Linked DNA regions of Homo sapiens: all the other regions are linked to region 2. Evidence: fine-mapped expression QTL. A gene starts in region 2. Each other region holds a variant in brackets. All regions are shown on one strand. Distances are from middle to middle.

Evidence for each region. PIP is the estimated chance that this variant, and not a neighbour inherited with it, causes the effect. A credible set is the group of variants that fine-mapping cannot tell apart.
Region 1: its variant is the best candidate, but not a certain one, in a credible set for the expression of HMGXB3 in whole blood (TOPMed, PIP 0.85).
Region 3: its variant is the best candidate, but not a certain one, in a credible set for the expression of HMGXB3 in T cells (TOPMed, PIP 0.87).
Region 4: its variant is the best candidate, but not a certain one, in a credible set for the expression of HMGXB3 in whole blood (TOPMed, PIP 0.79).

Annotation. Positions count from the first base shown.
Region 1 is chr5:150,039,142-150,047,060 of GRCh38, forward strand. HMGXB3 (HMG-box containing 3) reads left to right here. Exons shown (of 20, transcript NM_014983.3): 14 at 1,607-1,738; 15 at 2,644-2,828; 16 at 6,325-6,544. Among named protein-coding and RNA genes, the nearest start is that of HMGXB3, 42 kb to the left of the region's middle. The variant A/G (reference allele first, on the strand shown) is at 3,823.
Region 2 is chr5:149,996,599-150,004,517 of GRCh38, forward strand. HMGXB3 (HMG-box containing 3) reads left to right here and starts at 4,141. Exons shown (of 20, transcript NM_014983.3): 1 at 4,141-4,581. It overlaps TIGD6 (tigger transposable element derived 6), which reads right to left and starts at 4,056. Exons shown (of 2, transcript NM_030953.4): 1 at 3,876-4,056. RefSeq lists enhancers at 3,280-4,068, 4,956-5,035 and a silencer at 3,796-3,875.
Region 3 is chr5:150,061,435-150,067,731 of GRCh38, forward strand. It overlaps CSF1R (colony stimulating factor 1 receptor), which reads right to left. Exons shown (of 21, transcript NM_001288705.3): 11 at 289-415; 12 at 57-161. Among named protein-coding and RNA genes, the nearest start is that of CSF1R, 22 kb to the right of the region's middle. RefSeq lists a silencer at 3,401-3,576 and an enhancer at 5,527-5,576. The variant C/T (reference allele first, on the strand shown) is at 2,997.
Region 4 is chr5:150,030,484-150,038,380 of GRCh38, forward strand. It overlaps HMGXB3 (HMG-box containing 3), which reads left to right. Exons shown (of 20, transcript NM_014983.3): 10 at 258-356; 11 at 1,971-2,120; 12 at 6,153-6,454; 13 at 6,917-7,044. Among named protein-coding and RNA genes, the nearest start is that of HMGXB3, 34 kb to the left of the region's middle. RefSeq lists enhancers at 4,734-4,783, 4,904-5,113. The variant A/G (reference allele first, on the strand shown) is at 3,140.

The DNA of each region.
Region 1 (7,919 bases), 43 kb after region 2:
TCCGTATAAACTGTAGAGTCAGCTTGTCAATATCTACAAAGTCCTGCTTGAATTTTAATTGGATTGTGTTCAATCTGTACACATCAATTTGGGAAATTTTGACATGCCTAACAATGTTGAATCTTCCAGTCCATAGTCTTTCTCTCCATTTTAATAGGTTGTCAGTTTTTCTAGTTTCAGCATATAGGTCCTGCCCATATTTTGGTAGACTTACATATAAGTATTTTACTTTTTTTTTTCAGTGCTAAATGACATGGTTCAATTTCTAGCTATTCATTGCTAGTATAGAAGTATAATTAAGTTTGTCTGTTGACTTTGTTTTTGTAAATATTATAATTTTTTTAAGTTTATCAATTTTATAGGTAAAAACTTGTGTATAATCAGGTAATTTGTTGTATTTCTTTGTAGTAGGTAGAGTATATGTCCTTTTTATGATCCTTTATGGGTTTTTTTCTATAGTAAATTTCTTTTGTGTTTTCATTCTTCTTTTGGTCTTTTTTGTTGACAGTTTTCTCCCAGTTTATCGCTCTATTTATTCAGTTTTACCTCTAGCCTGTCAGAATGTGATATCAGTTGTCTTTTACATTTGTACCTGGTGATTTCTGGGGGCGTCATGACTTTTGCTTTTTAAAAAATATTTGTATGGGACCAGAGCTTTGCTCTCCCTTGTGGTTTCAGCCTTTGCACTTCTCCTTACCCTTCTTCACTGGGAACACATACTCCAAAATTTGCTTTTGTGCAGATTAGTGCATTATGTTTTGTGCACATATAAAATCACCCACTTTTATTTGTCTTAAATTGACTGCGCTTAAATTCCTCAGATTCATTCATTTCAGGATTTGGTGTTGGAGTGATTTCATAGCCTTTGTTGTACCCCTTACACATTCATGAGCTAAAGGATGCTCCTGGCCTTTCCCCAGGTGAAGTTGTGTGAGGTGTAAAGGAAGAGTGATACCTTTGGTCCTGAGGACTGAGCTGGGTGGGAAGAAAGTGTTCCTTTTTTTTATTGGGGGAAAAAGATCTACTATATGTACTATTTCATTATTTTTTGTTTGTTTGTTTAATGATGTATTATAGGCAACTTTGCGTCAGAACAGTTAGATCTACTTCTTTTTAAAAAAAAATGGATTCCATGTTGGAATACTTTATTCTTTTTAATGCTTTCTATTTTATGAATTCACCATAAATTAATTAACCCTTTCCCTATTGATGGGCATTTAGTTGTGGGGTTTTTGTTTTGCCTTTTTCAAGATATATAACTTGAATAAAATAGAGATGGGGCTTTGCTATGTTGTCCAGGCTGGTCTTGAACTCCTGGGCTCAAGCGATCCTCCCACCTTGGGAGACTACAGGTCTCCCAAAGTGCTGAGACTACAGGCATGAGATTACAGGCCATACCTGGCCTGTTTTGTTTTTTTGAGATGGAGTCTCTCACTGTGTTACCCAAGCTAGTCGACAACTCCTGGGCTCAAGCGATCCTCCTGCCTCATCCTCCCAAGTGCCTGCAACTACAGGCACGTGCCACCGCACCCAGCTGGTGTGTATTCTATTTTTTGCCATTGTGTATGATACATTAATTTCCTTGTTGCCTCTTCTTAACCTGCAGGTCTCTTTAATGTGGGGAACAAGCTGCTGGTAAGCCTGGACTTGCTTTTTGCAATCAGAAATCAGATCAAGCTCGGAGAGGACCCCAGAGTGTCCATCAATGTTGTTCTGAAGTCGGTGCAGGAGCAGACAGGTAAAAGTTGTTTTCTTCCCTTTCCCAAGGTTAGTCCTAAGCTCCCTCGGAATTTTCAGTGATGGCATTTGGTTAAAAGACTCATTTTGAAGAAGAGTCTGATTATTTTGAAAAGGAGACATTCTTGACTTCCTAATACACTCTTCCTTTTGAATTTTACAAATGCCAAACTAATTTTGGAAAGCATGAATCTTTTTGTGCATCCAGGGACCCTTAGCAAGAGATTACGAGTGACTTGTAGAAGTACCTTCTTTGGTCATAGGGAGACTTGGCCCCATTGCATGTTAGACTCATTCTGACCACACAGCTCCTGGATATCTGCTTCCAGTCCCAAGGCTCATGCCAAGACCTAAGAGTGAGGACCATCCTTTCTGTCTAGAATATTTTTCCTCCATGCCCTCTTTACTCCTATTTGTGCTTTTCCCATCCCATTCCTATAGGCTCCAATCCCCCTCTACCTTACCTGCTGTGAGAACAGATGGAGTAGAGCCTACTAGAGTTACATGGGCCTGTGTTTCAGTCTTGGCTCTGCCACTGTTGCAGTGTGATTTTGAGCAAGTTATTCTTGTGCCTCTGTTTCTCCAGTTATAAAATGAGGATAATAGCTCCTCGTTCATAAAGAATTAAATTGAGGTGAGATTAATGACATAACATATCCAAAGCTTTCAGCACAGCATCTAGTACTTAGTACAAGGCAGCTATCACTCCAGTGGGAATTGCTCTTTGGGTTGCCACCTGAGCACTTGCAGGCCAGATCCCTGACCCTCAGGGTAGGTAGTACACTGGAGTGTTCTTTAAGGTGAATCAGTCTGGCAGAATTGCTCTACTTACTACCCACTGGCTCATCCCTAGTGGCTTCAGTGTCTTTTTCTGTGCCCTTCTCAGTGTTCTTGCTCTTCTTTCAGAGAAGACTCTGACCTCGGAGGAGCTGAGCCAGCTGCAGGAGCTGCTGTGCAATGGCTATTGGGCCTTTGAGTGCCTCACTGTCCGAGACTACAATGACATGATCTGTGGCATCTGTGGTGTGGCCCCCAAAGTGGAAATGGCTCAGAGGAGTGAAGAGAATGTGCTAGCACTGAAGAGCGTGGAGGTAAGTGCCTCTTAGCCACCGTGAGGGACCTGCGGAATTTTCTCATTTTGGCACCTCCCTTCCTATATGATATCCCCAGGGGGTGGATAGCTCCAGTCCTGTCTAGGTGAGGCAAGTGAGTTTTTCCTCCCACAGCCCAAGATTTCATTTAGGGAATGCCAGATGGAAATGGAGGCATTTGTTTATTCAGTTACTCACTTGAAAAATGTATTTATCCAGTGAATAAGTATCAAAAAATATATATAGTAAATATATTGAACATAAACTAAATGCATGTTTTAGACACCTGGGAGATAGTAGTTAAACAAAGTTTCTGTCCTCATGGAGCTCACTTTCTGGTTTGGAGGACACAGGAAACAAATATCTGTCCAGGAGTAGTGAGTGCTGTGAAGCACAGTAAAGCTGGGTAAGAGAGAGAGAACAGTGTCATGGGAAAGGGCATTTGTATTTTATAGAGGGCAGTGAGGGGGGAAGGCCCCTCTGATACAGTAGCATTTGAGTAGAGATCTGAAACCCATGTGGCTTTGTGGAGGAATATTCCAGGCAGAGGGAACAGCTCGAACAGGGTCTGAGGAAGGCTTGCTGGGTATGATTGAGGACCAGCAAGGAGACCAGTGGTGCAGCTCAGAGTGTGGGAGGGAGGGAGGGAGTGGTGGGGTGTATGAGGTCCAGACAGTGCAGGAGGCCGACGCTATGTAGGGTAACATGGGCTATTTTAAGGACTTACACAGAGTGAAATGGAGAGCCACTGAAGGGGTTGGAGGAAAAGAGTGACCTGAGCTAACTTAGGTTCTGAACTGAAAAATTTTCACACAATAATAACATCAAACTCAGATGGCTTCATAGATTAATTAGAACAAATATCCAAGAAATATTATTCCAAACATAGGCAAGTAACAAAAGTGGGCATGTTTCCCCAACTCATCATATAAGGTTGTATAACTTTGGAAACCAAATCAGACATTTGATGTAAGAGAAGAAATTGGGGCTGAAT[A/G]TACTCATGAATATAGATGAAAGTCTGAATAAAATAATAGCAAATCAGATCTAACACAGTAATGCATCATGACAAAGTTAAACACAGGAAAGCAAGGTTGTTTCAGCAGTAGGAAATATGTTAATGTAATTCACTACTTAACCGATTAAAGGGGAAACCCTATATGATAATTTCATTAAATGTATGGGGAAAAAAAAGTTGTCCAGTATGATTCTACACCCATATTTATGATAAAACTTTTAGCAAACAGAACAGTAGGAAATCTTCCTTAACCTTCTTTAGGGTTTAAAAAAAAATCCCATAGATTACTTTTCCCTGTGATCATGCTATGAGGTCTGGTCTACACTCACAGGCAGGGACTGCGCCTTGAATATGCCAGTAGTTGCATAGGAGTGTGAGGTTTCCATCTCTGAACTCTACCATAGTAAACAAGAGCCTGGGACATGAGCTGACTTTCAGGTACTGGACTTGCATCTCATGTGTTCACTGATCAGGCAGGTGCAGAACCTGTAGAGAACAGCTTTGGTGTATTCTGGCAGGACCACTAGACATATTAAGGGTTGAATGCATAGTCCTGTCTTTTACTTCCCAAGTAAGAAACCAGGCAACTAAACCATTTTGTTTGTGTTATCTCATCTAGAGGCTGTTTCCAGATTGATTCAAATCCGCTTGCCTAGTAGTAGTGTTAATAATAATGCAGCTAAGATTTATTGAGCATTTTATTACTATGCCAAGTTCTTAATCTGTGCTAAGTGCTTTACTATATGACTTAATTTTCCCTACAACCCCATGAGGTTTTTATAGACATAGGCACTGAAGCCCAAGGGCCTTGCCCAAGCTCACCCAGCCAGAGAAGGGTGGGGCTGAGATTGACCTTGCTCTTTCTCAGCCGCTGACTGTGGAGTCTGCACCCTAAGCACTGCCATTCTCACCAGTACCTCCTACGACTCTGAGTTCTGTTTCTTCTGATCATATCTGGCCACAGCAAGTTTATGGTTTCCAAGAATAGACAGAGGCCCACCTCCCTGCAAAGGTGCCATCTCCTAGTCCTGCCTGGCACCCGTCCTGTCCCAATCAAGGCTCCTCTGTCCCAGAATGGAGTAGCATTCCCTTCACTCTCAGTTTGCTTGTCTCTTTCCTTCAGTGGTACCAGGTACTTCTTTCATAGAGGTACTTCTTTGTTTTGTGTGTGGAGAGTAGTGTGGTATGTGTGGGGAGAGAGTATCCTGAAGTCTGTGAACTAAAACAGGAAGTTATTGAACAAAACTTAAATATGCTGTTATCCATGAAGAGACTTGTCAGCCCCTCTCTCGGAGTTGTATAAAGGAGGACCCTGTGGTTAGTTTGTGTACTGGGTTGGCATTTCCTGTTCCCTTGCTCCTTGTGGAGAGGATAGACTCAGCTGGCCTCATTCCCCTAGGTGTGCCATTTACACAGAGCATGCACTAAGCACCCCTGTGAGGTGGCAAACAAAGAGGAATAAGGTGAGGAGAGGAGCCTTTATGGGGAGCAGTGGTTCTTGGACTTTAGTGGGTATAAGAACTACATAGGGCAGTGGTTCTCACAACTTTTTACAGTGGAGGGCTTGCTGGGTCCCACCCACAGGATTTCTGACTCAGGAGATCTGGAGTGGGGCCAGGAATTTGCATTTCTAACAAGTTGTCAGATGATACTCTTGCTGCTTGTCCAGGACCACCCTTTGAGAACCATTCCTCTGAGGAAACTTTTTTAAATGCAAAATTAGGAGTTTAGTTCATACAGCTCAAGATGTGGCCAAGGTTTTTACATTTCTAATAAGTAAGCTATACAACTGTGATTGAGGTATTAGGATCCGGGTCACGTTTTGAGAGCCATATAAGAGGGCATTGCAAGAAGAAAAATTGAGTAGCACAAGCGCTATTAATAGATGTCTATAAGAGATAAGTAAATGCTGCCCTGGGTAGAGGAGATAGCTGTGTGCTGATGATGTGTGGGAGGATGTCGGCAATCCACAGGGCCTTGGAAAATGGCTGGAATTTTACTCAATAGGATTCTGCTCGTTCTTGCCAGCCTGGTATCAGCAGTAAGGGTTTGGGCTTTGGAACTAGACCTGTGTTGACGTGATTGTTCTGTCTCTTCGAGTGCTTGAATACTCACCTCAGCCATCCCCAGACTTGTTTTTTAGTAGTTCATTACAAAGTGTCTGGCACATAACAGGTACTCAAATGGTAGCTCCACTTTCTTTGTAAGACAGGGAAAATGACATAAACAAAGGTATAGAAACAGAAGGGATTTAGGAACTATTCATGTCTGGGAGAGTACTATGGTGTGAGGGAAAGAAATGTGACCAAAAGGCAGGTGGGTACAGAGCTGTCAAATTCAAGGCCCTGTGGCAGTGCCTGGCTGTCTGACTTCCCTTCACCAAGCCTTGGCTTCCCTGTGTGTATAATGACGGGGTAGGCTGTTGTGTTGCTGATGTTCTGTGACTCCCACAGTTTGACCTTCTTTATCCTGACCTTCTAGTTCACCTGGCCTGAATTCCTGGGCTCTAATGAGGTAAATGTGGAGGACTTTTGGGCCACGATGGAGACAGAGGTGATTGAGCAGGTGGCATTTCCTGCCAGCATCCCTATCACCAAATTTGATGCGTCTGTTATTGCCCCCTTCTTCCCACCACTCATGAGAGGAGCTGTGGTCGTCAACACTGAGAAAGACAAAAACCTGGATGTGCAGCCAGTACCTGGTAAGGCCACCTGGTGGCTGACTGGGGTCAAAAAAGGGCTCAGTCAAGAGTCTGGGACATTGTCCATGGCAAGATAGCACAGTGGTAGCGAGAGGGCCAGGCCCCGCTGCAGGACTCCTTTCAGAAAGATAATAACAGCCCGTGTCAAAATCCCCTAGAGTTTAAAGTTGTGGTGCAGAGTTTTGAAGAGCTGTCCTCCATCTTACATAGCAGGGGCGCACAGCTCATTGTCAGCCTTCTGGGATACACACACTGAGTAGCAGAACTCCTATAAAAAATGCTGATAAGGCTCCATCCCCAAAGGTTTTCATTGAGCAAGTGTAGGGGCAGGCCAAGGAATCTGCCTTCAAAACAGGCCTCCCAGAGGGTTTTGCAGCTAGTTTTATGGATTAGACATTGAGAAACCCTGGACTAGCGGGTAAGAGGATAGGTTTCTAACAGCTTGAGTTTGATTCCCAGCTTTGCCACTTAGCTGTGTGACCCTCTGTCAGGTCCCATCATTGCCCTAAGCCACTGTTGCTTCTTTTACAAAGAGGGTGCGATAATAGCTACCCACTTCCTAGATCACTGAAGATAAAGTGAGCTAATGCGGTTAGAGTGATAGCCGCCTTTTTTAACTGTAACCCATAGTGAGAAATACATTTTGTGTCATGACGCAGAATGATATTCGTACATATGCAAGTGTGTATAACTGAAACAACATTCCCAAAACAGTATTTTTCTTTATTTTCTATCTTATTTCATTTTTGAATTTTTGGATATGACCCACTCAATTGATATTGTAATCACTTAATATGTTGTGATCCACTGGTTCTCAAACAGTGCTTCCTAATATTAGATATTGAGGCTGGGCACGGTGGCTCACGCCTGTAATCCCAGCACTTTGGGAGGCCCAGGCGGGCGGATCACGAGGTCAGGAGATCGAGACCATCCTGGCTAACACGGTGAAACACCATCTCTACTAAAAACACAAAAAATTAGCCGGGCATGGTGGCGGGCGCCTGTAGTCCCAGCTACTCAGGAGGCTGAGGCAGGAGAATGGCGTGAACCCGGGAGGCGGAGATTGCAGTGAGCCGAGATCGCGCCACTGCACTCCAGCCTGGGCGACAGAGCGAGACTCCGTCTCAAAATAAATAAATAAATAAAAATAAAAAGATACTGAGGTCCACCTCATATTCCTGCTAATATTTTAAGGGCCCAGGCATCTTTTTTTTTTTTGAGACGGAGTCCTGCTCTGTTGCCCAGGCTGGAGTGCAGTGTTGTGATCTGGGCTCACTGCAACTCTGCCTTCCGGGTTCAAGCAGTTCTCCTGTCTCAGCCTCCCAAGTTGCTGAGACTATAGGCGCACGCCACCACACCACCACACCTGGCTAAT
Region 2 (7,919 bases):
GTTTGAAACAGAAGTGATCTTATCTAGCTTACTTAAACATTCTGAACCTCCATAAAAATGGGAATAACAATGTTTGCTCTGCCTACCATGAGAACAGATTGAAATAACAGGCAGTGAAAGAGCTTGGCAAATAGCATTGCACTGTATACATTCCGAGTTATTCTCCAGCTTCTTTGATGGACACAGAAACTGGGGCCCTGGGAAGGGGCCTACCCGGGTTCATGCAGCTTAGATTTCTTAACTCAGATTACTATTTCTGCCAGGCCATGGTCCTGCTTGAAATTCCACCAAAGTGAGATCTTCAAAGCTCTACCACCATCTGGCCTGGAAAGATTTTTACTGTGGGAAGATGTTTCTGGTAGCCATACATTCATTTTATATTTACAGGTGCCAAGCTTTAAGGGTAGAGTAATGAACAAAAGAGTCAAGGTCCCTGTTCTTATGAAATATAAAATGTGGTGGGAAATATAAAAAGTAAACAGATAATTACAGAGGGTGATATGTGCTATAAAGGAAATAAAGACTATGACAAAGAATAAAAGAGGAAGATCTACTTATTATACAAAGGGTGGTCAGGGATGTCCTCACTAAGATGGCACTGAAGCTGAGATCTCCAAGAATATGGGGAAAGGGCTGTCCAGCAAAAGACATAGCATCAGCAAAACCTCAAAAGCAAAAATAGGCCGGGCGCTGTGGCTCATGACTGTAATCCCAGCACTTTGGGAGGCCAAGGCGGCCAGACCAGCCTGGCCAACATGGCGAAACTCCGATTCTACTAAAAATACAAAAATTAGCCGGGCGTGGTGGCGGGTGCCTGTAATCCCAGCTACTTGGGATGCTAAGGCAGGAGAATCACTTGAACCCAGGAGGCGGAGGTTGCAGTGAGCTGAGATCGTACATTTGCGTTCTAGCCTGGGCAACAAGAGCAAGACTCTGTCTCAAAAACAACAACAACAACAAAAAACAAAAAAAACACACACACCGAAAATAGCTTGAGGTATTCAGGGAACTGAAATATTTGCATGAATCCAAGTATATGACAAAGGTGGGTGGCCAGACCATTCAAAGATGCCATGGTAGGCTGGATGGGGTGGCTTACGCCTGTAATCCCAGCACTTTGGGAGGCCGACGCGTGTGGATCACGAGGTCAGGATATCGAGACCATCCTGGCCAACATGGTGAAACCCTGTCTCTACTAAAAATACAAAAAAAATTAGCCGGGCGTGGTGGCGGGCGCCTGTAGTCCCAGCTACTCGGGAGGCTGAGGCAGGAGAATGGTGTGAACCCGGGAGGCGGAGCTTGCAGTGAGCTGAGATCGCGCCACTGCACTCCAGTCTGAGTGACAGAGCAAGACTCCGTCTCAAAAAAAAATAAATAAATAAATAACTGGGTGTGGTGGCGCATGCCTGTAATCCCAGCTACTCGGGAGGCAGAGGCACAAGAATCGCTTGAACCCAGGAGGCGGAGGTTGCAGTGGGCCAAGATCACACCACTGCACTCCAGCCTGGCGACAGAGCGAGCCTCCATCTCAAACAAACAAACAAACAAAGATGCCATGGTAAAGAATTGGTATTTTGAGTGCAACAGAAATCCACGGATGTTTTCAGGCATTTTAAAAGGATCACTTTGGCTGTTCTGTGGAAAATGGATCAAAGAGGCAAAGAGACCAATTAGGTGACAGATTATGGCAGAAGTGATGGGCAGGTTGTAGTACAGTCCCTCTCTGGGCCTATTTTCTTTTTTTCCTTTTTTTTTTAATACATATTTTTGAAAAGTCCCATGGTTGCAAACCACAAGCCCAGATGATGCCTAAGGTCCTTCCAGATTTAAGTCTTGGACCCTAGATAGGTGCTTCAAACTCAAATGCCTTTAGGGGCCAGGATGGTGGCGTAAGTGAGTGAAACAGGGATTGAAGTATTTGGAGAATGGTGTGGTGTATCCTGTCTAGAAGTATTCAGAATTTAAAACAAACAGTCCCCCTGCCCTACGCTGGTCCAACAAAACATGATCCAGCAGTAGCAGTTTTGGGTAATTGCCTTCGTAGGCATTTTATCATGAGAATCCTTAAAGGACAAGAGAACCTGCTGTGACTTTATGCTATGACTGTCCCTTCTCAAGGGTAGATTTTTACTATCACCTCCATACATGTATCCATCCATTCATGACATGTACTATGTATTAAGCAGTATGCTTGATGCCAGCCATACAGAGATGAATGGAGCATAGTGCCCACCTTTGAGGAGCCTACCAGGGAAGACAAACACTAGAGCATGTGAAAACTAAATCAGAGGTTACGGAGTACTACTGGAACATAAATGTGCAGATAATCAACTGGAATGGAGCATGGATGGGCAGTGCACTTCAAAGAGGGAATAATATGGTGGGCCTTAAAGAATAAACAAATAGGAACTCATGAGATGAAAGGAAATATTTAACATGAAAGGCAATGAAATACTATATAGGAAATAGAATGTCCTGGTCAGGAACAAAAAATTCTTTGGAGAAGAAAGCAAGGACCAAATCACAGGAAGTCCTAGTCAGGTTTCTAGCTTGCTTTGGGGGCATTAAGAGGCTTTTGACGGTTTTTTGGTTTTGTTTTTCTGGAATGACATGATCAGATTTACAATATAGTCTTTTGGTTGCAGGGTAGAGAACCTAATGGGTAAAGTTGATTTTCCTAAGAGATGGCCTTAAATCTGAAGATAAAAGCAGGCTAAACCAGTAGGCCATATACAGTTTGGATGTTAATTTGAGTGCAATAGGAAGCTATTGAAGGATTTTAAGGAAGGAGAGATGACTGCTGTGTAAAGAATGGAAGGGTATCAGAGAAAAAAGCAGGAGTCCACATGAGATAATGGTGGCTTGGATTAGAGTAGTAATAGAGAGATGGTGAGTAGTAGTCAGTCTGGGGCTATGTTTTTGCAAGCCCTGTGCTGGACCGGATGTGAGGTGAAGGAGGAGTCAAGGATAACGCCCAGGTTTCTGGTTTGAGCACTGAGGAATCCAGCAGATGATGGTGCCATTTACTGAGGTGGGAGGATCTACTGCGTAAACCTCATTTGTTAAGCACTTTACTTGCTTAATATTGCTTACTTGTGGCAGGGCTGGGATTCAAACCCAGGAGGCTCACAACAAAGCTAGCACTCCAAACACTACAGAGTGCTATATAGCTGGTTCTGGGAACTACTAATATTGAGAGGAGACATAGAAAGAGAATGAAGCAAGAGCCAAATCAGACAAGTCTTGGTCAAGCTAAGACGTCTGAATTTTATTTTAAGTGAATGAGACACTGGAGGGTTTTAAGCAGGGAGTGACTTGATCAGACTTACAGTGCAAAATGATCAATCTGACTGCTTCGTGGAGAATGGATTGTAGAGGGGATGTGGGGAGAACTACATCAGTCCAGGCAGGAGATGATGGTGGCTAGAAGGTTGGTGATGGCGGTAGATGCAGAGAAGTAGGCAGACTGGAATACAGTGAGGGTTGTGCGGGAACTTGTACAAATGTGGACAACTTGTGACACTGGAGAGAAAGGACAATCCAATCCAATCCCTATTTGATTTACGGAAGCTCTCCATACGGTCATTCAGCTCAGCTTGAGTCACTCCAGGAACTCACTACCATCACTATTCGTGGGCCAGTGGGAGAGACGGATTGAGGGCAGATCACTGGAGTGATGAAGGCGCTACTTGATGCGGCACTACGTATGAACCCGATCCTGAATGAGAGGGAAAGACTGAGACAGGCTGAGGTCAGGCCTTGAACGTCGTGCTGAGGAGAGGGTGGTATTGTAGGCTTCCCAGCGCCCGACGTGGCTCTGAAAGGTGAGGCGGGGCCTAGATCCCTCACGCTCAGCACAGCCCCGCCCCTGTTACCTGAACGCCCCACAGCAGTGCCCGGGGGCTGAGCGGCCGGGGCGTCCCACCGCCGGCAGCCACAGCTTCCTCCTCCGCCCGGGACCTCTGGCCGGAAGCAGTCCGTTCGCCTTACTAGACCCGCTCCAAGCCTTTGAGCAGTTCGTGTGGGTCCGCTCCCAAGCTAGGGCTGGGCTGTTGCGCTTGCGCCAGGGGTCGCATGCAGTCACGCGCTGCCGACCGCTTCCGGTGCGCCGCGAGGGCCGCCGGGACGGGTCTCCCTGGCGATCCGTGGTGTGCCGCTACTGCCGGTGCAGCCGCCAAACCGGTGCCTCGGTGACGACCGTGTCCCTGCCGTCTTCCTCGAGCTCCCCGGGGCTTGACCCCCGGGGCCCTCGGCAGGCATCGGTGAGGAGCCTGCGGAGCGAACCTGTGCTCCTATTCTTGCCCTTCAGGACCCCATATCGCGACTCCGAGGAGGGGAAGCGAGAGGGGCTGTCGCGACTCCGCGCCGTGTGTCGCCGGGCGGGGCCGCGGGGCCGGGGCTCCTTCAGCCCCCGGGATGCGCGCGCGAGCCCTCGCCTCCACTTCCTTGTTGCTGCTGTCACGACTGGAGCCGCCTCTCGCCGACAGCGGGGAGCGCGAGTGCGCCAGCCATCCCCCTCGTCCAGCCGCCGGGCCAAGCGCCTCCGGGAATGTGAGCGGCGCAGCTTGCACGCTCCTCCGGGTAAGTCCCGCCTTCGAGGGCCGCGCCGAGCCGCTGGGCGACCTCGAGTTGGATGCTGCGGCTCTCTGAGCCTCTACTGAGTCTTCCACAAAGTAGGGCCACTGAGCCTTAGTGTCCTCCTTCCGCAATCCGTATGGGACATTCGGATGTCCCAGACGTCTTAGCTTGACCAAGACTTTGTCTGGTTTGGCTCTTGCTTCATTCATGACCCAGAATGAGGGAAAGGAGCTAGCCCAGAGTCAAACTGTGGCCCATGGCTGAGCCCTCAAAGGCAATCTCGTGAGATTCCAAGGAGGATCTGATGGGACAGAGAAAGTGTCTCGCATATTTCAGGTATTGACCTTAACTCTGTTTTACAGATGAAATAACGGAGACTTAGGGTAAGTAGATTGCTTAAGGTCAGAGGTCCCCGTGCTGGTGCGACTGGTGTAGTCTGTACTAGAACCCGGATTTTCTGTCCTCTAGAGCCCTTCGTTTTTAACCTTAAATTGTCCTGCCTTTTTTTGCATTGCTATACTGCTGCCTCGAGTCTGATAACAAACTTGTACTCAGGCTTAGAACAGGGTAATAAAACAAACAAAACCGTAGGGTGTTGTCTTCCTGCCCTCAGCCCAAGGTGGCTGTAATGAGTGTTTCCTAACCCGTTTTGCGCAGGGTGCTTAGTACCCTATATGCCATTCATTACAGATGCTCTCCTGCAGTTACTGCCCTTCTCCACAAGGCTTTCAGCCGCCCAGAAGTCAATTCAGGGCAAAAAAGCGCAGTCCCCACGTAGCCTTGATTTGAACTACTGCTTCCCTTATCCTTTACTGGCCTATTGCTTACCCAGCCAAGTTGTAGACTGTGTTCTCTTCCTGGGTTGCACTATGGCAGTTAGAATGTAGGTTTTTGTTTTGTTTTTCTTTGTTAGTTTAGTTTTTGTTTTTAATAGGAAGAGGAATCATTTAGAGATGACAGAGAACTAGGAAGAACCTAAGGAATAATGTGTGCTTTACCTGGGGTATATCCTGAAAATTATAGGTGAAATACAGTGTGTCTGCAATTTCTAGGAGAGGTTTTTTGTTGTTGTAGTTGTTTGTTTTTTTAAGCTTTCGCAACATTGTCAAAAGAATTCTTGCCTCCAAAAGACTAGGAGCCACTGGGTTCATCCTTTTCTCACAGTAGAAACAGTTGAAATTTAGGATGTGGAATAGACTTCTCTGAGATCATAAGGTTAGAGTTTAGGTCTCTTGACTCCACATGCAGTGCTCATTATACCTTATTTGTGGAGTGAGGTCTAAATGAGAGGTGTGTGGGCTTTGTACTGCACGTATCAGTCCCATATTTACCACCACAACTGCCTCTTCCCAGAATTCTAAATTTCCTCCTGACAGATTTTCAGGGGCAACTATGTTATTTCCTCTTGTAAAATTCAAGTGGTTTCTGTGAGCCTTTCTCCCTCCAAGGATTGAGACTTGTGGTAAAAGTCCAATTTAGAACTTGGCTACAAAAAAAACTAACTCTTCTTGAACTGGTTATTAAGTTTTTTATGCCTCTTTTCCTAGACATAAAAGCTGTTAGTAGATTCTCTGTTTTTTAGCCCAGCACCAGAGAGCTGATGTTGGTTGGTCAGATGACTGTTTAGATCTGTGCTGTCTCTAGCTCCTAGCATATGTTGCTATTTCAGTTAATTACAATTGGCCAGGTGTGGTGGTGGCTCATGCCTGTAATCCCAGCACTTTGGGAGGCCAAGGCAGGAGGATTGCTTGAGCCTAGGAGTTTGAGACCAGCTTGGATAATATAATGAGATCTCATCTCTACAAACAATTTAAAAATTTGCCAGACTTGGTGGTGCACATGTGTAGTCCCAGCTACTTGGGAGGCCAAGGTGGGAAGATCACTTGAGCCTGGGAGGTGGAGACTGCAGTGAGACAGGATCTCATCACTGCACTGCAGCCCAGGGGACAGAGTGAGACCTTGTCTTAAAAATAAATAAATTTAAAAATAAAACTAATTCAATTCTTCAGTCACACTAGCCATATTTCAAGTGCTCGATAGCCATATGTGGCTGGTGGCTACTATATTTGACAGCACAGATGTAGAACATTTCCATCATCAGAGTTTATTGAACAGTGCTGGTTTGGAGGGTTGCCAGTAGAGATGGATAGCAGTGTAGCATAATGAAAGAAGGCCCAGGGAGTTGGATTTTTGAGTTAAAAATCTATCTCTCAAGTCCCTGCTTGGGCTTGGTGGCCTTGGGAAGGTTGTTAAGCATCTCAGACACAGATAATAGTCTTTAACAGAGGCTAGATGTGGTGGCTCACGCTTGTAATTACAGCACTTTGGGAGGCTGAGGTAAGAGGATCGCTTGAGCCCAGGAGTTCAAGACCAGCCTGGACAACATAGCGAGATTTCATCTCTATTATTATTTTTTAAATTATATAAAATTAAAAAAAAAACTTAATGAACTCTTCCATTTTTTTTTCTGCCAATTACCTGACTTTAGGAATGAACCCAGCAGGGCACAGTGTAATCCCACTCATGCCTGTAATACCAACAGTTTGAGAGGCCAAGGTGGGCAGATCGCCCGAGTCCAGGATTTTGAGACCAGCCTGGCCAACATGGCAAAACCCTATCTCTCCAAAAAATTAGCCAGGCGTGATGACATCACCTGTAGTCCCAGCTACTCAGGAGGCTGAGGTGGAAGGATTGCTGAGCCCAGGAGGTCAAGACTGTAGTGAGCCCAGAGTGTGCCACTGTTCTCTAGTGACAGAGTGAGACCCTGTCTCAAAAAACAAAAACAAAAAACCCAAAAACAAACCCTTTTCATTTGCATAGCACTTGACTATTTTCTTTTTTTTTTTTTAATTAAAAAAGATTTTTATTTTTTTAATAGAGATGGGGTCTCACTATGTTGACCAAGCTGGCTGGCCTCAAACTCCTGGCCTCAAGCAACCCTCCCATCTCAGCCTCCCAAAGTGCTGAGATTATAGGCGTGAGTCACTGCGCCCATCCAATTATTTTTAAATAGAGTTGTGTCTATTGTATCCTTTGAGTCTTATCACTATAAATCTGTGGGAAGGTAGTTGAGACATGTCTTTTTTTATACATGAGAGAGAAAGCTGAACAAAAAGCAGCTAAAAGACCTGACCAAAATTGCACAAGCTGGCAGAGTATAAAGAAATCTTTTACATACAGGCCCTTACTACATGTTTGAGTGAATCAATGAAGGGATTTGCTTAAGTTGATGAAACATAGGAGGAATGGGCCAGAACTTCTGATTCCTGGCCAAGCATTTTTTTTTAACCTGTTTCCATATAGAATTGTTATAATTTGGGGCTAATAAATCTTTGTGTTAA
Region 3 (6,297 bases), 64 kb after region 2:
CCACCCCCAGCATCTACCACCCCCCATCCCTTCCCTCATCCCCTCCCCTCACTCACACTTCAGCATCTTCACAGCCACCTTCAGGACAGCATCCTCCTTGCCCAGACCAAAGGCCGTGGCCTCCACCACCTTCCCAAAGGCTCCAGCTCCGAGGGTCTTACCTGCCACGCACACAGGTCCCTTAAGTCCCTGGGCACCAAAGGGCCTCTGTCCAAGGGCCCATGGGCTCCCTGCAACCCCCACAGGCCCTGTGATAGGAAGCTGTGGAGTGATGAGCTGCCATCTCACCAAACTGCAGGTTGTTCCGGGGGAACTCCCACTTCTCGTTGTAAGGCAGCTGCGTGGGGTCGATGAAAGTATAACTGTTGCCCTCATAGCTCTCGATGATCTTCCAGCGGACCTGGTACTTGGGCTTCTGCAGAAGAGGAAGGGAGCACGTGGCAGTCGGGGCTGGCAGGCAGTTCCTGGACCTTGTTTCTGACCCCCAAGAGCAGGGGTGTGGGCAGTCCCAAGGCGCCCAGTGGGAGAAGGCAGGGCAAGGCCTGCTCTGGGCTGAGAGAGGTCGTCTCATGAACATAGCACTGAGAGCATGTTCCTGCTTGACTCTGCCTTGTTGTGTGACCTTCCCTTCTCCAAGCCTGTTTCACTATTTGTGTATTGAAGACCTTGGACAAGACAACCTCTGAGGGCCCTGATATCTCTGATAATCTGGTAATTCCTGAGCCAGGAGGGAGGGTGGAACTTGAGATCTTATCCATCCGTTCATCTGTCCATCCATCTACCCATCCATCCACCCACCCAACCTCCCATCCAAATATATATATATATTTTAATTGTGATAAAACATACATGAAATTTACCATTTCAACCATTTTTAAGTGTATGGTTCAGTAGTATTAAGTAAATTACATTCTACCTTGTGCAACCAGTTTCCAGAGCTCTTTTCATCTTGCAAAACTGAAATTCTGTTCCTGTTAAAAAGCAACTCCCCTTTCCCTCCTCCAGCCCCTGGCAACCATGATTCTGCTGTCTCTGTGAATTGCACTGCTCTAGGCACTGCACCTCAGTGGACTCACACAGCATGTGTCTATTGAGATTGCCTTATTTCACCCAGCATAATGTCTTCAAGGTTCATTCATGCTGCAGCACAGGTCAGAATTCCCTTCCTTTTTAAGGCTGAATAATAGTAGCCCATCCACATACTTTCTTGAACATCTATTTGTGTCAGGCACCGCTGATTCAGAGTTGAACAGGACAAAGTCCCTGCCCCTCCATGGAGTTTGCATTCTAGTGGCTGAGAGAGGCATTAAACGCAAATAAACATGTATCTAGGAGATTCTCAAGTGGTGCTATGAAGAAAATAAAGTAAGATAAGTCAGGGAAGGCCCCTAAAGAGCCCACCATGTGACCATCAGAGGAAGAATTTTCCAGGAACAGTGCATGGAAATGCTGTATGCTTGACATGGGAATGATCCTGGCAAGTTTGAGCTATAGGAAGGCAGCCATCATGGCTTGAGGGAAGTGGGGGGCAGATTCCAGAAACAGGAAGGCCTTGAGGGCTATGATAAGGTGAGTGGGTTCCCTTTTGGGATTTTTTTTTTTCCAAGACAGGATCTCTGTCCCCCAGACTGGCATGCAGTGGGGGCAGTCTTGGCTCACTACAGCCTCGACCCCCGAGGTTCAAGCAATCCTCCCACCTCAGTCTCCCAAGCAGCCGGGACTACAAGCATGTGGCACCACACCTGGCTAATTTTTGTAGAGACGGGGCTTTGTCGCAGCCTAGGCTGGTCTTGAACTCGTGAGCTCAAGCAGTTTGCCTGCCTCGGTCTCTCAAAGTGCTGGGATTACAGGCATGAGCTACCATGCCTGGCCGGGCAGTGAGAGACCCTGAGAGTTTGACACAGGTGAGTCGCCATCTGACTTTTTTTTTTTGAGACAGAGTCTTGCTCCTTCACTCATGCCGGAGTGCAGTGGCACGATCATAGCTCACTAGGCTCAAACTCCTGGGCTCAAGCAATCCTTCTGCCTTGGCCTCTCAAAGTGCTGGGATTATAGGCGTGAGCCATCGCACCCAGCCTTGACTTTACCTTTTTGAGAGAGAAAGAGAGACGCTGCCCACTAGATAGATTCTGGAGGACCAGCACCTTTGGAAAGACCTGATTTCCTTCCTTAGGCTCTCCATGCTGTTACCACCCAGCCAGGGGAGGCAAGCCCTGGGATGTGGGGAGGAGGAATGGCTGCCCCTGTTTCTTGCCCAGGGGTCAGCTGCTGAGGGGGAGTACCATGCTAAGGGTTGCCCACAAGAAATGCTGATGGAAGACCAAGTTGAGGGGGAAAGTGGAAGCTGGGCTGGGGCGGTGGAGGACACTGAGGCCCTGGGTCAGCAGAGCAACTCTTTCCGGCCAGGCCTTGGGGATGGGACAAGCTTGGCTGTGCCTGCAGCTGGGCTCCTTCCCTGGGCACCCGAGCTAGAAACTTAAAGGAAGTGTGGACCGGTGCTAGGGAGGAGGCTGGCCTTTAGCTGCAAGTCCTGGTTGAGAGAGAAGATTCCAGTCATGTCCTTTGCAGCAACGTGGTGCAGCTGAAGGCCATTATCCTAAGCAAATTAACACCGAAACAGAAAACCTACATACCGCATGTTCTCACTTATAAGTGGGAGCTAAATATTGAGTGTGCATGGGCATAAAGATGGCACCAACAGACACTGGGGGCTACTAGAGCAGGGAGGGTGGAAGCGGGCGAGGGTTGAAAAACTATGGGAGCTATGCTCAGTAGCAGGTGATGGGATCCATATTCCAAAGCTCAGCATCACGAAACATACGCATGCAACAAACCTGTACGTCTATCCCCTGAATCAAAAATAAAATGTGGACATTTTTAAAGAGAGAGACAGGGAGAAAGCTTCCAGCTAACCATCAGGAAGAACTTCTAGCTGGTAGTTAGAGAGAAAAGACTGCAATTAGAAATGAGAAGGAACTAACTTCCAGGCTCTGATT[C/T]GGAAGGGCGGACTGCAGGTGAACTTCAGAGCCTCTGCGTTATAGCTTGGGAGAGAGTCTGAAACGGGACCCAGGGAGAAGAACTTCCCAAGCCTCTGAGGATCCAAATCCTGCCCGTGGGTGCCTTCCCAGCCCAAAAGACAGCAACAAGGCAAGGAGGGGATTCTTCAGCCTCTCCTGGCCACTTCCATCTCTAGGAGCCTCTGTGGCTAAGACTGTTTTTTCTTACCACTTCTTGTTCCTCTGTCCCTCTGCAGCTGGGCTGAGTCAGCCCCTCCCTGCCCCCAGCTGGGCAGGGGGCACTGTTGAAAGGGAGGGGATCAAGGAGGATGGAGGTTTGGCTGGATTCTCAGATTTCTGAATCCTAGGCTCCTAATTTCTGGAAGCGGACCAAGCTGCCTTCTGCCTGCCTCAGGAACCCTCCCCTGCCCCTGCTGGGCATGTAAACCTCCCAGGGCACCTGTGCCATCCCTGGAAAGGGCTCATGGGCGTCTACCCAGAGGCAGCCTCTCTTCCAAAGAACTATGAGTGAGAGATCAAGAGGTGGGGATGGGCGAGGCTCCCTGAGAAGGGTGGACGTAATTGTCATGATGGCAGCGGGTTCTTCCTGAGCTCTTCCTGGGAGTGGGGCGCTGGGCTAGATGCTTGAAGCACATCACCCCATTCATTCCTTGCAATGGGCCTAAGCCCCAGGCCCACCCCCTGACTTCTTCCCTTCCTCCCATCCTCCCCACCAAAGGGGGCATGGAGACAAAGTCCCGGTCCCCTCCCCATCTAGGCCTGCTGGTTCTGGGTGAGTGGATGTTCTCCATCCCAGGAAGGTGGAGATCTGAACAATTCCCAGTGGAATCTTTGGGGACCCTCCTGTTGCTCCTCAGAGCTCAGTTCCAGCCCCCAGAATCGTAGTCTTTCCAGCAGCCTCCCTGGACCCTCCCTTCCCTGCTGCCTCAGCCATTTCCCTGTGCGCCTCCTCCTCCAGGGGAGCCTGCTGACTCCTGCCCTTTTCTCTTCCCCCACGGCCCCCCTTGTGGTCACTCTGGGGGACAGAAAGGTGATGATTCAGCCCTGAGGCAGAACAAACACTCCCCACAGACAGGCCACTTCTTTCCCCAGGCCTGGGCAATGAGGAGAGGCTGGGCTGAGTCCCCAGTGAAGGGGCAAGGCTCCGAACCTCATGGGGCAAGGCAGAGGAGGATGGGAGGGCAGGCACTTAGCACGGGCATGACCATCCTGCCCCCTCCGCTCCCATGGGTGGACACCTCGGCCTGGAGCTAAAGGGTCTGTGAATGGGTGTAGGGGAGGAGGGTAGCTGCAAGTCTTCTCGCAGCCTTGCATGGGCTCCAGGGGCAGCTGAATTTCCTGGACAGGAAGTGTGGAGGTGACATGTTCCAAAAATGGTCCCGTGGAGAGGGGATACAGAGTTCCTAAACCACAGCCAAGGGGGCTGGCCAGCCCAAGGCAGAAAGGGCCGCAGGGGGCCCTAGGCTCTTCTCTGGAATCTCTGCATGACTGTCCTGGCAGCTCTGTGGGCACTGCGAGGCAGTTTTCAGTTCCATGTAAGGAAGAACTTTGCAAACATTGGAGCTGCTCAGAGAAGGAACAGGTGGCCCCGAGAGTGAGTAAGGTCCTGTCCCTGGAGGTGGGTGGGCTGGGCCAAACAACCGCTTTGGGTGTGTAGTCAAGGAGATGATGCCCGACCTCAGACCTCCCCCTCCTTCCACCATCCCAAGAGGCATGAGCTAACTCTGGTTCCCCAACGAACTTCCTCCTGGGACAAGAGTGTGCAGCTCCCATCACAGAGACTGTCTCGTCCAGCACCCCGCTCAGTCCTCTATGTGCGTTGTGGTACGGAATCCCTCACAACAGGCTGTTAATGATCCCATTTTACAAATGGAGAAGAGACTCAGACACACCAACTTTCTCATCATCCCATAGCCAGAGCTTGGCAGAGGCAGGATTTGGACCCAGATTCACTGAAGTCCAAGTTTCTGGTGCTTAAACTAGACCACCAGTGGGCTCTTGGCATGTCAGAGGAGGAGGGGCTGTTAGAGAACACCCAGACCCATGGTATAAGAGGGGAAACTAAGGCCCAGAGAGGACAGCGAGTCAGCTGAGGTTACATGGCAAAACAGTGTCAGAGCTGGACCTAGATCCGGAGGTATTGACCGGGGCTGCCCTCAGAGCAGCCTTCTCATGCTGAGTGCTGGCAGGAGTAGAGATCCCGATCCATGTGCCCCTGGGGCTCCCCCAACATCCTTCCCACCCTGCCCACTTCAAGCCCTCTTCTCACAAAAGCCCCAAGGGGGTGTGGGGAAGAAAAGGTAGCCAAGGGGACACAAGATGGGTCATTCAGTCCTTGATCACACCACTCCCTTGTTCAAACCCACTGATGGCCTTGGACCGACAGGGTGGGGTCCAACCCTTCAGACCCCCAACCCCACCCTGGTCCTTCCCTCACCTGCACCTCTGCACACTCTGCCCTCTCCCCCAGAGGTACCCTTTCCCTTAGTGTCATCTCCCCTGCTGCATCCTCATCCTCCAAAGCCCGTCCCACCAATGCCAAGCCACCTCCTCCAGGCAGTCTCCCTTACCCACCAGCCTGAAAAGTCCGTCCACCTCTGAACTCCCACAGCCCTCTGGCCTGGTCCTCTCAGCTTCTGATCACATTGCACATGGTCTTTGTGTGGGCAGGCAGGCAGTGGAGGCCATGGGCTCTAGGGACAGAAGCCCCTGGGGCCCAGTGCCAACCCTATCCCTCAGCCCCTTGGGGTTTTTTTTTTTAACCTTGCTGAGCCTCAGCTTCCTGATGGGTAAGATACTGACTAGTATACTTCCTGCCTCCAGCTTCTTGTGAGGGTAAAATAAGATGAGTCAATGTTTCACATAATGATTGGGACATGCTTTGGAGTGAGTCCTCCTTCAGGGTTAAAAACCAGACTCTGCCTTTGACCAGCTGTAGACAAGGGCAACTGTCCCAACCTCTCAGAACCTCAGTTTACAACTCTGTAAAACAGACTAATGCTAGCTGCATACAGTGGTTGCTGAGGGCATTAAATGAGATGATGTAGGTAACATGCTATAGAAAAATGCCCCTCAAATCACTGTCATATACTGAGCAGACAGTGACAGGAAGCACACTATACGCAACATGCACTAAATTGTGGCTTTGGCTAATAGGACAGTAACATGAAATAATGAAGAGGATGATGGTCACAGGCCCTCGTCTTCACTAGACCATGTGCTTCTTAGGGCAGGGCTCAGGCCTGGCCCAGGGGACACCACGCTTGTATATCCATTTCCT
Region 4 (7,897 bases), 34 kb after region 2:
AGTTGTAAATCTGATTCATGGTGTTTCTAATACATGGTATTAGAAACTGCACAGAAGCATGTGGCAAGGCCTGGACTTGAACATGACACTCAGCCTTTGGTGGGCTTGTGACTGCCAACTGGCAGTCCAGAGGGCTCATTTGGAGAATAGCTCTACAAATTCCCCGGGAAAGCATTCCCTCAAGTCGTTTCAGGACATGGGAGCTCAGGAGTTTGGCTAAGGTTCAAAAGCACTAAATAATTTGTTCTGATCCACAGCTACCAAGTGGCCCATCCAACAGGACTTCTCAGGTGAAAGTTGTGGAGGTCAAGCCCGATATGTTTCCTCCATATAAGTACAGCTGCACTGTCACATTGGTAAGTATGCAGCTAGGTGGTGGTGGGTTGACATGGAGGTTGTTTTGATTTTGTGGTTGAAGGTCAGTAGGAGGCTGGGGGAGAGGGTGGTGGTAGCTGGGAGGGAGAACAGGGTCAGGTATAGATTGTTAATGATGAAGATCCCATCCCTGATGCAAATAATAGCTACTGGATGAATCTGCTGGGTTGTTTTGGTCTCTTTCCAGGTGAGATTTATAAAGTGTAGGACAGCTGAGATTAGTGTATTTTTATTGAGAGTTGCCAGAGATGAGAATCTAGTCCAGATTTAACATTTAGCTGTCTTGGAACCTTTTAGCTTAGAAAGGGTGTTCCACAGTTACATTTAGGCAACGTTGCCTTTTTCTCCCTAAAACAGAGTCCAGTTCAACACGAGTATCTTAAAGTAAAATAGAGAAGTACTTTAGTAAAGCAGCTTATTTTGTTTAGCCTAGTGTTTCCCACAGGGTTTTCCCTTTATTTTTAACATAACACATATTAACGTCCTAATGGACAAATGTGTGACATTGGGATCACCCTTTTGTAGGGCAGGCAGCATAGAGCAGGGAAATAAATGCTAGACAGCTGAGAGACCTGGTCCAAAAGGAGTTCTGGCTCTGCTGCTAGCATGCCATATGCCACTGGGCAAGATTCTTTCCTTCTGTGGTCCTCAGTTTCACTATCTGTAAAGTGCTGCATTGGTTTAGACATCTTTGGGGCATCTGTCACTCTCAACATTCTCTAATTCTGTTGATGCTTAAAGTATCAACCAGCAAGATGTCTTTTGGCAGTTTCTCTAGCTGATTTGATTAAGATGAACAGATTTTGAGAGAACAGCTAGATTTTTAAAAAGTCTTGCCTCATAATGGCAGACAGGTTCAGAAAGGGTCATTCATTCCTTCAAAAAATATTTATTGAGCACATATTCTGTACTAGGATCTGTACTGGGGATTCAGTAGCAAACAAGACAGCACAATGTGATGGGTTAATGTCTGGCCTGACCTGATCCATAAGGAGAATGTGTCTCTTATCCTGGAGATCTGCTCAGGTTTCTTTCTCTTGTGACCTAAATATAATCACTACCTTTTCCATGCCTTCACTCACCACTCCCTTTGGCTACAGGAGGCAACTAGATTTACCATTTAGGGGGAACTACCCCTGAGTAGACCCTCTCTTCTGCTGATTAGATAGTAACTTGTCATAGGAGCTTAGATGCTAGAGCTTTGAGCTTTAATAGTCTGTAAGTCACAGTTTGTCTTCAGGCAGGGCTTGAACTCTTTAGTTCACCAGTCTCAAGCACTCTTTGTTTAAACAGACCTGCTTTACTCCACCAACTGCCTGGACCCTGAAGGCATTTGAGTTTCTGACCATTGAGAGTCAACTCTCCTGTTTCACAGATAGGGAAGGACTGGACTGGATTTGCCAAAAATTTACAGCCTGTATTAAAAGTAAAAGAGTTAACTGCAGAAAAGGTTAAGGCTCTTGAAGTTAGGCTGAATCTGGTTTGCAGTTGCCACTCTCTTCTCTGATTTACTGGCAGCTGCTCATTCTGGTTCTGGGTTCTGCCCAGGTTTAACTTAATTTTTGTAGAATTGAACACTGGTCTTACTTTTTTAGGATTTGGGCCTGGCTACATCAAGAGGCCGGGGAAAGTGCAAGAATCCCTCTTGTAGCTATGTCTACACCAACAGGCACAAACCTCGAATTTGTCCCAGCTGTGGTGTTAACCTTGCCAAAGACCGGACTGAGAAAACCACCAAGGCTATCGTGAGTTCCTTCCCCCAAACACATCCCCTGGCCTGTTCTGGGCTCTGTTAGTGAACCTGTCTTAGTAGAAATAAGAAGATTTTTAAAGTACATGGTGGTAGTTAGAGCATCCAAACTGAACCAGTTGGTGGGTTCTGAACCTGAGCAAGTGCCGCCTTTTCTCTGAGCCTCCTTGTCCCCATTGCCAGGGTGAAGGGGTTGACTAGGTATCTTGATCTCTGAGAACCAAGAGTTCACTCACTGCAGAGAATGATGTAGCACAGGCCTTAAGTAGGAGTGAAAGGAGAGGGACGAAAGGGTTGCATCCTCTTACCGCTGAGGCCTGATACAAGACCTGTAAGTTGATTTACTGTTTCGGTAAATAGAGAATGCCAACCTGAGACTTTGCAGATTAGACCACCGCTGCTTTCTCAGGCTCCTTGGAAAGCTTTTAGTTAATCAAAGCTTTATTTCTAGCAGTCTAGGCAGCCCTCCTCTCTGAAGTTGGGCCAAACTACTTGGGTAGTAAAATACATTCCACTTGGCTCCTTAGGGCTGCTATTATTATTATTACTATTACCAGGAAAAATGGGCATTTTCAGAGGTCCCCAGAATTTCCATATGAGTTTTTTAAAGTGAACAGAAAATGGTGGCACTTGAGGCAGCAAATGGAAGGACTAAAATAAGGATGAGAAGAGAAATGTCACTGGTCTGCCTTGGGGAAAGAGGGGATGGCACACAGAACAGGTCAGGACCTGAGATGGAGCCTGGTCACTCCAGATCAAGGCTGGACCTTGAAAGGCAGGCAGGTTTTGAATGGAAGGGGAAGGCATGCCATACTTAAGTCTCTCCCACTAGACTGTAGTCTGGTGAGTGAACATGAAGTGTGAGTATGGATAAGGATAAGTGTGAGTGATAAGGATAAGTGTGAGTGAACATGAAGAGTGTTCCATTTGGCTGGAGGAGATGGCGTGGGGGCATGGGGTGGGAGAAGGGGTGTTACGGAAAATAAGACGTGAAAAGCATCTTGGAACCATGTC[A/G]TGGAAGGTCTTGTCAGTTTGTTCTTTAGTCAGTGGGGTCCTACTGAATGTCCTTGAGCCGGGGAGAGGCCTAGAGGAAAGTTATTTCAAGAGGGGAATTTATGGGATGAGAGTTTGGGAGTAGACAGGACTACAGAGGTGGGGAGAACTGCTTCAAGCTTAGAGGTTTATTTGTATATGGAGAGAGGCCTTTTTGATGATGAATCTCACCCTGGTCTCCAGAGTCTGTTTCCGTGCTTGAGGTGATGTTCTGAGGTTATTGTCCTTGTGAGAAAGGAAAGTGGAACCAAAGTATGTGGGCACTAATGGCTTGGTGGGAAAAACACTGGGGCTGGGAGTGACCCTGAGTTGGAAGCTTCCCTCTCCCGAGCTTTAGTTTCTCCATTGGTAAAGTAAGGTGGGCAAGGTAGATTAGATCTGGGCATTTTACTCTTAAGAGACAGGAGCCTTAGAGAAGACTGATAATTGAGTTTTAAGGAGTTTATAAATCCCTGAAATTGCATGCAAAATGGGTCCGTAGCTTTCATCAGATTCTCTTGCTCCACTGGATGCCTGCTGCTGGAAGTAAGCTTTCTTCCCGGATTTTCAGTGGGTTTCAAAGTGCTCTTCTTGCCATAGCATTGATCACACCCCATATTGACTGCTTTTCTTAACTCCCTATGAGACCACAATCTCTTCTAGGGCAGGTATGTCTGTTTTTCCTGCACCTTCTAACCCTGGAGCTTACATATACAAAGTGTGTCTATCTGTAATTAGGAGATAGAATTGAGTTCTGTGTAGGTAGAAGCTCTGAGCATTCCTTTCTCCTTCCAGTTCATTTTAGCTATTTGCGCGGTTTGCAGTGGAAGTGGGTGTTACTCTCTAGATCTAGGATGATGAAGGAACTTAACTTCTCAGGTGACATAGGAAATTATCTAGGGACCTCTTGCCAATTTCAAATCCCACTCTTAAACTTATATCCATCTGTATTTGGTTAACTGAGAACTGCCCACCCCCAGGACCCTCATCTGCAGACCTTCCATCACTTTCCAATCTCCTAAAGTTTGGAGAAATACAGTGTAATTACTGCTTTCCAGAAAATAAAGCACTGGTCAGAACCACAGGGATCTTCTTGTGTGTTGTCATTTGGAGCCCCCTGGTAGCCAGATGTTTTCACATCTCTGAGATGGAATGGTCTTTAGTCCTTTCTATCCTTCATCTCTGGCGAGAGTCACGGGACAGTATTCCTGCCAAGTGGTCTTCCAGCTGTGGTTTCATAGTCATGACTGAGAACACACAGCCTCTCGGGGCAGCTCATTCTAGTGTTAGTCAGCTCTTCTGTAGCCACTGATTAATTAATTCTCTCAGCCAGCCTATATTGAATGCCTGCTATGGGCCAGGCTTTCAGAGATGAATAGGACGTGGCCCTTTCCCTTGAAGAGCTTACAGTCTAGTGGGAGAGAAAGATAACCAAGCTATTACAAATGAAAGTTGTCATAGGTATGCGGAGTTAATAAAAAGCTCCTTATTAAGTGTCCTAGTCTGTTTTGTGTTGCTATAAAAGAATACCTGAGGCTAGGCAATTTATAAAGCAAAGAGGTTTATGTGGCTCATAATTTGGCAGTCTGTACAAGAACCATAGTACCAACATCTTTTTTGGTGAGGGCCTCAGACTGCCTCCACTCATGGTGGAAGGCAAGGGGAGCCAGCATGCATAGAGATCACATACAGAAAAAGGAAGCGAAACTCATTCACCACCTCCCTTGCTCCTGCCCCACGATAATCTACTCATGAGGGATCTGCCCCCCTGACCCAAGTACCTCCCTTTAGGACCTGCCTCCAACGTTGGGGATCACATTTCAACATGAGATTTGGAGACGGTAAACATCCAAACTATAGCATTAAGCATTTAACTTCTACAGAGCCATGTATAATATGTCCATCACATATGAATCAGTATCTTATGTGTGTCTCAGGCATCATGCTGGTTGGGAATCAGTAAATAAGCAGAATCCTACCCTTACTGAAGCGGGGAGGGTGGTGGTTTAGCAGCTGTCAGATGATGAATTCTGCAGTCAAGGGGTGCACTCAGAGAACACAAAGCGGGGAGTGATTTATGCTGCCTTGGCAAAAAGGATCAGGGAGAAGCTCCATTGAAGAGAGACCTGCTTGAGAAAGACCTATTTTTAATGAGTATTTCAGAACATTGTTCCTGGAAGCCTCTGACTGGTATACAAAATTACCTTGTACCCAGAAGCCACCGAGAATTAAAGACAGATAACTTTAAGCAGTGCAGATACTTGTTTATGTATCAAAACTATCATTCATAGAGCCTTCATTGCACCATAGGCATTGTGCTAAGTGCTTTACTTATAATATCTTACTTAATCTGTATAATGGCTCTAAGAGATTACTATTTTTATGCCCCATTTCACAGATGAGGAAATTGAGACTCAGAAAGATTAAGTAAATTGCCTTGGGTCCCACATACACAGCTGTTAAGTGGCATATCCAGAACTGAAACCTGGGTCTGTTATCCTCTAAACCCCATACCTGATGAATGAGAGCTAAGTGTTGAATCCATTACCAAGAGTTGTATATAATCCTCTCATTTACTGATACAGGTTGACTATCCTGTATCTGAAGTGCTTGATACCAGAAGTGTTTTGGATTATTTCATAATTTGCAATATTTGCAGAATACATACTGCTTGAGCATCCCTAATCCAGTGATTCAAAATCTGAGATGTCTAATGAGCATATCCCTTGAATGTTGTCTCAGTGGTCAAAAAATTTCAGATTTCAGAGCATTTTGGATTGGGGTGCTCAACCTGTAGAGAAACTGAGCCCCACAGAGAAAAATAACCAGCCTTTAGTCACACAGTGAGTTATTAGCTGAGCTGGTTAGGAACCTAGGTTTGCCACCTATCAGTCATGGGCCCCATCTGTCTGCTGCTCCCAGACTTTTATTATTTTAGCCTGAAGCTGGCTCTTTCTGCTCTGAGTGCTTGGTGATCAATCCACTCTCTTCCCAGGAGGTGAGCTCACCACTCCCAGATGTACTGAATGCCACAGAGCCCCTGAGCACAGCCCAGAGGGAGATCCAGCGCCAGTCCACACTGCAGCTGCTGCGCAAAGTCCTGCAGATTCCTGAGAATGAGTCAGAGCTGGCTGAGGTCTTCGCCTTGATTCATGAACTCAACAGCTCTCGACTTATCTTGTCCAACGTGAGTGAGGAGACAGTCACCATCGAGCAAACCTCTTGGTCGAATTATTATGAGTCTCCGTCCACGCAGTGCCTTCTCTGTAGCAGCCCATTATTCAAAGGGGGACAAAAGTAAGCACCCCTTAACTCTGCCCCTAGCTACCCCATCCCATTTGGCTCATACTGCTCTTTTCTTCAGAAAACATTAAAACTATAACTGTGAAGATGTTATTCTCTGCCGTTTTTAGGCTTCCTTTAACTTTCTGATTGCTGAAAGTAAAGTAATAATTGGTAATTATCATTTCTGTTGAAATGCCTGAAAGTTATCACCAGATTAGGATTTAGTTTACATCTGGACTGCCCCACACAATGTTTAGGTTTGGGAGTTCATTGGGATTGGTTAAATTATGTAATAAATTCAGAGTTACATTAATTGTAGGGATGATTCCACAGATTCCAACAAAGTGGAAATACCTACCTAGAAAATCCTAAGCTCCAGCAAATGAGAATTTGCCATTGATCACTGAGCCCTGGAACTCCATAAAGAAGTCTCTTTCCCTTCTTTTTTTTTGTTGGTGATGTTTCTGGTACTAGCTCCCTGGCTGGGCCCCAGGAGTGCTGGCTGCTGACAGCCAGCCGTCTGCAGACAGTGACTGCCCAGGTGAAGATGTGTCTGAACCCCCATTGTCTGGCCCTGCACAGCTTCATAGACATCTACACAGGTGGGTGCCAACCTTCTCTTCCCTCAGAGCATCCCAAAGCAGGCTTGGGAACTGCCTCTATGGATGAGACCTCTGGCCCTTTGAGGACTGGGCCTTCTCAGATGGGGCTTCTGAGGAAGGGGGAGTCTTCTTCCTAAATGTCTTAGTCCCACAAGATGACTTTTACCTCTCAAGTGTTGAAGCTCTCAACTGGGATCTTTAAAATAACAGATCTTCATTGTGGAAGGGCTGGAAAATGCAGACAAATAAAAAGAGGAAACAAAAAATCAAGAGCATTGCTACTGCCATGAGATAAACACTTATTTAACAGTGTGATCAATCTTCCAGAAATGTTTATTCATCTGTGCAGAATATAAGAAATTATAGGATGTATAGGTTTATAGTCTTTCTTTGAACAAAAGTACGGTTGTGCTAGATGTTGTTTTGGAATGTGCTTTTTAAACTTAGGGGTACATTGTGGGCATCTTCCTGTGCCAGCAAGTAGAGAAGTACATGACCATTTTTATAGGGATGTATGGTGCTCCAGTTTACACTTTTGTGATTCAGTCTTTGTGTACAGCCCTAATTTGTCTTTTGGACAAATACTCAGAAGTGGAATTGCTGCACATTTACCCTTTCCTCCCCTATTATTCATCAACATCAGGCATTTGTGGAACACTCACCGTGTACCAGCCATTTTAAGACTTTGGTTGAATCCTAAGTTTTGTTTGTAGAATTGAGTGCTGAAGATGAAAGTGTATTTTTGATGTATTCTCTTTGTCTTAGAACTTAATGGTGCTTTATTTTGAATTCATGTTTTTAATGTCTTATATTATTAGATTGAGTTTGTACTATTTTATGCTCTTGCCAACAG